2 linked regions of the Homo sapiens genome follow. The protein of the gene in region 2 purifies or fractionates together with the protein of the main gene of each other region. This does not show direct contact. Each region holds a gene or a part of one and is shown on either strand. Other genes may lie near its edges. The genes, in order: THEM4 and ULBP1.

Region 1 (3,807 bases), on a different chromosome or scaffold from region 2:
GCCTGCTCCTGCTTTGCCTTCTGCCATGACTGTAAGTTTTCTTGCTTCCTTTTTTTTTTTTTTTTTTTTTTGAGACAGAGTCCCACTCTGTTGTCCAGGCTGGAGTGCAGTGGCGCAATCTTGGCTCACTGCAACCTCCACCTCCTGGGTTCAAGTGATTCTCCTGCCTCAGCCTTCTGAGTAGCTGGAGTTACAGGTGCCGCCCCACCACACCCGGCTAATTTTTGTATTTTTAGTAGGGATGAGGTTTCACCATGTTGGACAGGCTGGTCTCGAACTTCTGACCTTAGGTGATCTGCCCACCTCGGCCTCCCCAAGTGCTGGGATTACAGGAGTGAGCCACTGTGCCCGGCTGACTGTAAGTTTTCTGAGCCCTCCCCAGCAGCCAAGCAGATGCCACCATCATGCTTCCTGTATAGCCTGTAGAAATGTGAGTCAATTAAACTTCTTTTCTTTATAAATTACGCAGCCTCAGGCATTTCTTTATAGCAATGTGAGAACAGCCTAATGCAGTGGGCAAAAGAGGCATGAAACAGTTTTGAGGGGCCTTATTACAATCATATGAAGTAGGTACTATTTATTATCCTCATTTTGCAGATGATGAAATTAAGGCCTAAAAGAAGTTTGGCATTATTAGGGTGCAAGAATAGGGGCAGATGGCTGCAGAAATGCATGTAAAACCTTAACACTAAGCTAACTGGCTTGAATTGTATCTGCAGTGCTCTCTGAGGGATTTTAAATGGGGGGTAACATGATTAGATCTTTCCATAATATAAAAGATAGTGGGAGTGTCCAAGGTTGAAATCAGAGGGCCCTATTTGGAAGCTACTAGGGTAACTCAGGTGAGAAATCATGAGAGCATGAAGCAGAACTTGGTGACAATTTGGATAAGGAGGGTAAGGGAAAAAGAGAAATACAAGACCCAGTACCAGGATTCTGAATCCTGCAGTGAGGTGAATGACAGAGCCAATTACCAAAAAATATAGGAGAAAGAGGAGTAGGGAGCTCAGGGGACAAGTTTTTGGTGTCACAGTAACCACAACTTCCATCCATCTATTTCTGTAGCACCAAGCACTGCTATTACTCCAATGCCCAGGCAACAAATGGAACATTGCAGGGATCCTAGAGGACCTGGAAGACAAAGTGTGACTTACTCAGGAGCAGAACAAAGTGTATGCCCACAAACACCAGAAAGGAAACTGGCTTTTTGGACTGCTGCAGTTATCTTGGAACATGTAGGATCACAGAAGCTATTAACTCCATGGCATTCTACTTTCAGCCACCCTTATCAATTCATTCAGATTTAATGTACCTACAATACACACACTGCACCATAAAACCAAAACGGGGAGGTCACAGTATGATGGGAGAACCAGCTTTCTGCTGACAGGGGCTGGCTCCAATGCTGGCTTGGTGGGAAGAATACAGAGAACCTGTCTCAAAAACTCTATGGAAGAAGAGACAGCCTGGCCTCCCAACCTATATCTTTCTTCCATGCTGGATGCTTCCTGCCCTCGAACATCGGACTCCAGGTTCTTCAGTTTTGGGACTCTGACTGGCTCTCCTTGCTCCTCAGCTTGCAGACAGCCTATTGTGGGACCTTGTGATCGTTCTTAATTATTGTAGGAACATAATACGTGTTGGATTGGGCAGAGTGATTCCTCCAACTTTCTTCAAAATCGTATTAGCTGAGCATGTGGAGGCTTGTATTGTGAATTTTAGTTCAAGATTGACTGCAAGAACCAGCAATCCCAAGAGGACCCACAGACCCTCTGAAGGAAGCGGACTACTCCTGCAGGACCGGGAGACATCCCAAATACTGTGAGTGCCCCAACTGTGGAATTGGGAAAGAAAGACCCTCCTCTCCTGAACACACACCCCTACTGGAGAAGCTGGTCTGTCTGCAGGAGAAATTTCTGACTTTACCTGGAGCTGAGTCAAGTTAGAGAGCTAAGCTGAGCGAAATACAGGGTAAGGGAAGCAGCAGAAAGGCCCTGGGAGCTCACTGGGTCCCCAAGCAGCCCATACCTGCCTGGCACCACAGGGATTCATCAGGAGGGTGGCCAAAGGAGCAGGGGGTAAAATTCCACAGGGAGAAGAAATTCTGCGGCTGAACTTTGTAACAGTTTGAACTGGGGAGAAGCTTCCTGGCCAGAACTCGGGGAGGGCATGAACCCGGCTTGCAGACTTCACAGGTCGGGGAAGAACTAAAGCCCTTTTCTTTTGCAGCTGGGAGGTGGAAAGCCTCAGACAAGTTTTCAAGCCCGTCTTGCCCTCCACCTGGAAACAGACACGGGGATGTTGGAAGGGCATGGTGGGAGTGAGACCGGCCCTTCGGTTTGCATGGGAGCTGGGTGAGGCCTGTGACTGCCGGCTTTCCCCAACTTCCCTGACAACCTGTATGACTCAGCAGAGGCAGCCATAATTCTTCTAGGTACACAACTCCAGTGACCCGGGAATCTCACTGCCATCCCCCACAGAAGCTGCAGCAAGATCCCCCCAAGGAGAGTCTGAGCTCAGATGTGCCTAGCCCCAGCCCCAGGTGATGGTCCTTCCCTATCCACCCTGGTAGCAGAAGACAAAGGGCATATAATCTTGGGAGTTCTAGGGCCCCGCCCACCACCGGTCCCTCACCATACTGCTACAGCTGATGCTTTCTGGAAAGTGCCACCTCTTGGCAGGAGGCCAACCAGCACAAAAGTAGAGCATTAAACCAAAGCTAAGAACCCTCACAGAGTCCACTGCACCCTCTGCCACCTCCACCAGAAAAGGCACTGGTATTCATGGCTGGGAGACCCATAGACAGCTCACATCACAGGACTCTGTGCAGACAACTCCTAGTACCAACCCAGAGCTGGGCAGACTCACTGGGTGGCTAGACCCAGAAGAGAGAAAACAATCACTGTAGTTCAGCTCACAGGAAGCCACATCCACAGGAAAAGGGGGAGAGTACTACATCAGCAGAACACCCTGTGGAACACAAAAATCTGAACAACAGCCTTCAGCCCTAGACCTTCCCTTTGACAGAGTCTACCTACCCAAATGAGAAGGAACCAGAAAACCTACCCAGGTAATATGACAAAACAAGGCTTGTCGACACCCCCCAAAAATCACACTAGTTCACCAGCAATGGATTCAAACCAAGAAGAAATCCCTGATTTATCTGAAAAAGAATTCAGGAGGTTAGCTATTAAGGCAATCAGGGAGATACCAGAGAAAGGCAAAGCCCAATGCAAGGAAATCCAAAAAATGATACAAGAAGTGAAGGGAGGGCCAGGTGTGGTGACTCACGCCTGTAATCCCAGCACTTTGCGAGGCCAAGGTGGGCAGATCACAAGGTCAAGAGATTGAGACCATCCTGGCCAACATGGTGAAACCCCATCTCTACTAAAAATACAAAAATTAGCTGGGCATGGTGGCACACGCCTGTAGTTCCAGCTACTCGGGAGGCTGAGGCAGGAGAATTGCTTGAAGCTGGGAGGTGGAGGTTGCAGTGAGCCAAGATTGTGCCACTGCACTCCAGCCTGGGCGACAGAGTGAGTCAAAAAAAAAAAAAAAAGAAGGGAGAAATATTCAAGGAAATAGCTTAAAGAAAAAACAATAAAAAATTCAGGAAATTTTGGACACACTTTTAGAAATGCAAATTAACCTAATCCAACAAAGAGAAAGAAAAAGAACAAGAAAATATGAACAAAGCCTCCAAGAAGTCTGGGATTTTGTTAAACTACCAAACCTAAGAATAATTGGTCTTCCTGAGGAAGAGGACAATTCTAAAAGCTTGGAAAACATATTTGGGGGAATAATCGA
Region 2 (4,298 bases):
AGCTATGGGAGGGCAGTGACCACACAGCCTCAGAGCTGCCCATCACAGGGTGGGCTCCTCACCCTTTAGGTCATTAGGAATATAGGCCCCACAGTGAGAAGACACAGGTGGGTCTCCTGGGATGGGCAGGAGCAGGGCCACAGGGAACCAAGAAGCTGCACAAGCAGTTGGCCCCGATCCCCAGGACACTACATGGCTGCACCCCCTCACCCTTAGCTCACACCTGAGGCTTTAAGGAGGGTCCCTGATTGCCCTGAGGGACCTATGATGCCACCCAGCAGCAAAGGAGGGGCGCAGTAGGCCCAGAACCATAGGACCTCCATTCACATCCATCACATCCACACCACCCAGAAGCCACAGGCAGGGTAGGACACACTTGTGACTCTTCAACTTACACTACTTGGAGATGACACCCTAGGGGATGGGGCAGCAATTGCCAGGACACAGCATGTGCCCTCATCTGGGGTCAGCAACCTAGGACAGGGTCCACATCTGCTCTCCCTTTTATTTGCAGGTTACCATTGCCTGCTGTTGCTCTACAAAGGGACAGGACTTGACACACAGACAGAGAACTCACGGCCAGCAAGGACCAAAGTGCCTTCAGCCTTTCCTTTCTAGAAAGGGTTTGCTGACTCCTGTCTGCTTAGTGACTATTCTATATGACCCTGGCTCCCCAGTCGGAAGAACAGGCGGGTCTGGGACCCAAGGGCAGAAGTGGGCACCTCTACTCACCGGCGCTCCCAGGGTCATCGTGAGGGAAATGGGATTTCCCGTCCCCCCTGCATTAAGTTTTGTGGAAAGCCTGGGGTGTGTTTGCTGGGGTGTGTCCTCAGGCAAAAGGGGACAAGGTGCTAGTTGGTCGGGGGAGGTGCTAAGGGCCCCTTCATGGATGGGGAGGTGAGGGAGGCCTGTGTGGTGACAGGGGTGAGCTGAGATGGGGAGTGAAAGGATGCGACCTGGGTGGTGAAAGTGAATGGTGAGGGGAAGGGTAGCAAGTGTCTGGTGAGCCCCTGCGTGCAGGTGAGTGTCTGCAGCAAAGTGTAGGGGCGAAGTTCCAGGGCAGGGAGCCCTGGGGCTGCTGGAAGCTTTGTGTGGTGAACAGCAGGTCAGAGCAGAGCAGGGCTGTGGCTGATGGGGGAGTCTGTGATCGCGTCCCTGTGGAACTCCCCTTTACCCCTGTCCTGACCCCAGCTAGGGTTCGGGAATCTGGTTTCTCCTTCCCTAGGGCCAGTGGGGCTGCGGGTCTGCACCAGGGATCCCCGCCCTACCTTGCCCTCTGTAGCCTTTTGGTCCCTCCACCCTCCTGCAATTCCTTTTCAGCCTTCTTTGACACTCCCCCTGGACTGCGGTGCTAGCAGCAGCTGCAGGAAGCGGACTCGGCGGAAAGGAGCCCCGGAGGGGAACTGAGTGCCTTCAGCCAGGCACGTTCGGGGAGACAGCGATGTTCGGGGAGACCGCGATGTTCTGGGGGATCGCGATGTTCGGGGAGACCGCGATGTTCGGGGAGGCCGCGATGTTCGGGTAGACCGCGATGTTCTGGGGGATCGCGATGTTCGGGGAGACCGCGATGTTCGGGGAGGCCGCGATGTTCTGGGGGATCGCGATGTTCGGGGAGACCGCGATGTTCGGGGAGGCCGCGATGTTCGGGTAGACCGCGATATTCGGGGAGATCGCGCTGGTCCACCCAGAAGCCTCCTGGCCTATGGGGCAAGCAGCAGCCGCAGGAAGCGGACCCGGAGGAAAGGAGCCGCGGAGGGGAACTGAGTGCCTTCAGCCGGGCATGTTCGGCGAGATCGCGATGTTCGGGGAGATCGCAATGTTTCGGGGGATCGCAATGTACGGGGAGACGGCGATGTTCGGGGGTACCGCGATGTTCGGGGGGACCGCGATGTTCGGGGAGACCGCGTTACTCGGGGGGACGGCGATGTTCGGGGGGGATCACGATGTTCGGAGGGATCGCGATGTTGGGGTAGAACGCGATGTTCGGGGGCATCGCGCCGGTGCTACCAGAAGCCTCCTGGCCTGCGGGGCAAGCAGCAGCCGCAGGAATCAGACCCGGCGGAAAGGAGCCGCGGAGGGGAACTGAGTGCCTTCAGCCGGGCATGTTCGGCGAGATCGCGATGTTCGGTGAGATGGCAATGTTCGGGGAGATCGCGATTTTCGGGGAGACCGCGATGTTCGGGGAGATCGCGTTGCTCGGAGAGAGGGCGATGTTCGGAGAGGCCGCGATGTTCGGGGAGACCACGATGTTCGGGGAGACAGCACCGGTCCTTCCAGAAACCTCCTGGCCTGAGGGGCAAGCAGCAGCCGCAGGAAGCGGACCCGGCGGAAAGGAGCCACCGAGGGGAACTGAGTGCCTTCAGCTGGGCATGTCTGGGGAGATCACGATGTTCGGGGAGATCGCGATGTTCGGGGAGACAGCGATGTTCGGGGGCACCGCGATGTTCGGGGAGACCGCGACGTTCGGAGGGACCGCGACGTTCGGGGAGACCGCGATGTTCGTTCAGGGAGATCGCGCCGGTCCTTCCAGAAGCCTCCCCTCCTCTGAAACCCGCTGCAGTCCACAACCTCCCAGGTTTGGCCCCCGCCCTGCTTAGGCTACATCCCCGAACTCACCGACCCATCCTGCCCGGGACCAGCCAGACAGCAGGTGCAGAAGCGGGAGGCACAGAAGGAACGCGGGGCTGGCGGCCGCTGCCATTGTAGACCTGGAGCTCCGTGGACAGGAGGCGCTGATGGTTCCCTTCGAGGCTCACACCACGGCTGTTTATAAAGCTGCCCAGCCCGGCCCGCCGCGCGCAGGGATACACTGGGCGGGATCCTAGGCATGCACTTTTTTGGGGATGCTCCACCCCGTCACGCCCCGGGCTCGTCATCTGACAGCGGCCTGGCTGACGCAACTCTCCCCTCCGACCCGCCCCCGCGGCTTGGTGGCGGCGTGCGCGGGCCCCGAGCGGGCCAGGACGCCGTTCCTTCCGTTCCTTCCATGGCCCCATCAAATAATTTTTCAACACAGCATTTATCATTACCCCAGTGTAAACACTGATGCACAGGAAGATGAAGAAACTTGCATAGGAATACTCAGTGGCGGCGGTGTCTCCCTGTCACCGCCTGCGCCAGCGACACCCGCCCTCCCTCCGCCTGCAGTCGCGAAGTCCCCGCCCCTCTCCGTCCAGGGCGCAGCCGCTTCCCCATTCCGGAGCGAACCTTTTTTGCCTCTCCACTAAAAGCATGAGGTGGTCTTTGAGTATATTCTATATCCCTTTATGACTTCTGGAAAAAAAAAAAAAGAAAAGAAAGAAAGCCCTAGAGGGCTACCGTGATCAATCATGATGTGATCAGTTGTGTTTCCATGGAGAGCAGAAGCCGAGGGAAGAGTCTACGCATGCGTGGGGCTCACTTTGCTACACACCCTTCTGTGTCTAACAACACCCAAATCCGTGGCTGTATCTGCACCTCGGCTCAGTCCCTGGATGGTCCCTGCAGCCATCCTCAAAAGGGACGCCCGAGTGCATCCTCCTCTGAGTCACCATGAAACCATCTAGATCTGCGGGTAGAAGCCAGAGGGAGGTGGAGGGCCCAGTGGCTCTTGGCCGCAAGGGAGGGCTTAGCCTGCAGTAAGGACTGGGCAGAGCCCCTGAGTCCCACTTTGCCCCCAGCCACTCAGCCCATTCCCCAATGAATGAGAAAAATAGGCACAGACCTCCCACTCCACACAGTCTTCATGTGGGGAGACCTTCACCTGGTGACCATCAATCACCAGGGTCCTGAGGCTGTGGGAAAGGGGAGGAGGCCTGGACCAAGCCCAGGGCCTGACTATGCTTCAGGACAGGGACATGGGATGGCAGCCATCTCTGTGACTGAGCAGGGACACAGGAGCCAAAAGGTTCTGGCCTGATGCACTAGAGCCTCTGTCCAGGAGGGGCTACATGAAGGGTGGTCGGCAGGACAACAGTCACACGGGGGTGGGCAGTTCTCAGATTTGGGAGGGGAATAGCTTGGTGGGCCCAGGGATCTGTGTGTGAGAAAAGCCTCCCATGTACAGGGCTGGGGGCAGGAGCTCAGGTTAGTCCTAGGAGGAGGCCACTGGGAAGTCCCTGGCAGCACCACCCCTGAGGCCGGGTGACCTGGGCCAGTGACTGCGGGAACAGGAGGAAGGCAGAAGGAGGCTGGCAGGAGAGCCCCAAGCAGGACAGCCAGGTGACAGGAGGAGGGGCCTGTGTGCACACCTGGGCCCTCCTGCCTCACCCCTGCTGCAGGCATCCGGCCACTAGACTCAGGCCTGCCCAGGATGGGCA

The links.
Region 1: the proteins of ULBP1 (region 2) and THEM4 purify together in Homo sapiens (affinity purification with mass spectrometry; one large-scale study listed by BioGRID and IntAct). This does not show direct contact.

Annotation. Positions count from the first base shown.
Region 1 is NC_000001.11:151,895,940-151,899,746, forward strand, and holds part of THEM4 (acyl-coenzyme A thioesterase THEM4), read right to left. Parts: intron 1-3,807. UniProt on the Homo sapiens protein: Has acyl-CoA thioesterase activity towards medium and long-chain (C14 to C18) fatty acyl-CoA substrates, and probably plays a role in mitochondrial fatty acid metabolism. Plays a role in the apoptotic process, possibly via its regulation of AKT1 activity.
Region 2 is NC_000006.12:149,962,453-149,966,750, reverse strand, and holds the start of ULBP1 (UL16-binding protein 1 isoform 1 precursor), read right to left. Parts: upstream 2,809-4,298; 5' UTR 2,702-2,808; coding exon 2,617-2,701; exon of another isoform or gene 1,269-2,616; intron 1-1,268. UniProt on the Homo sapiens protein: Binds and activates the KLRK1/NKG2D receptor, mediating natural killer cell cytotoxicity.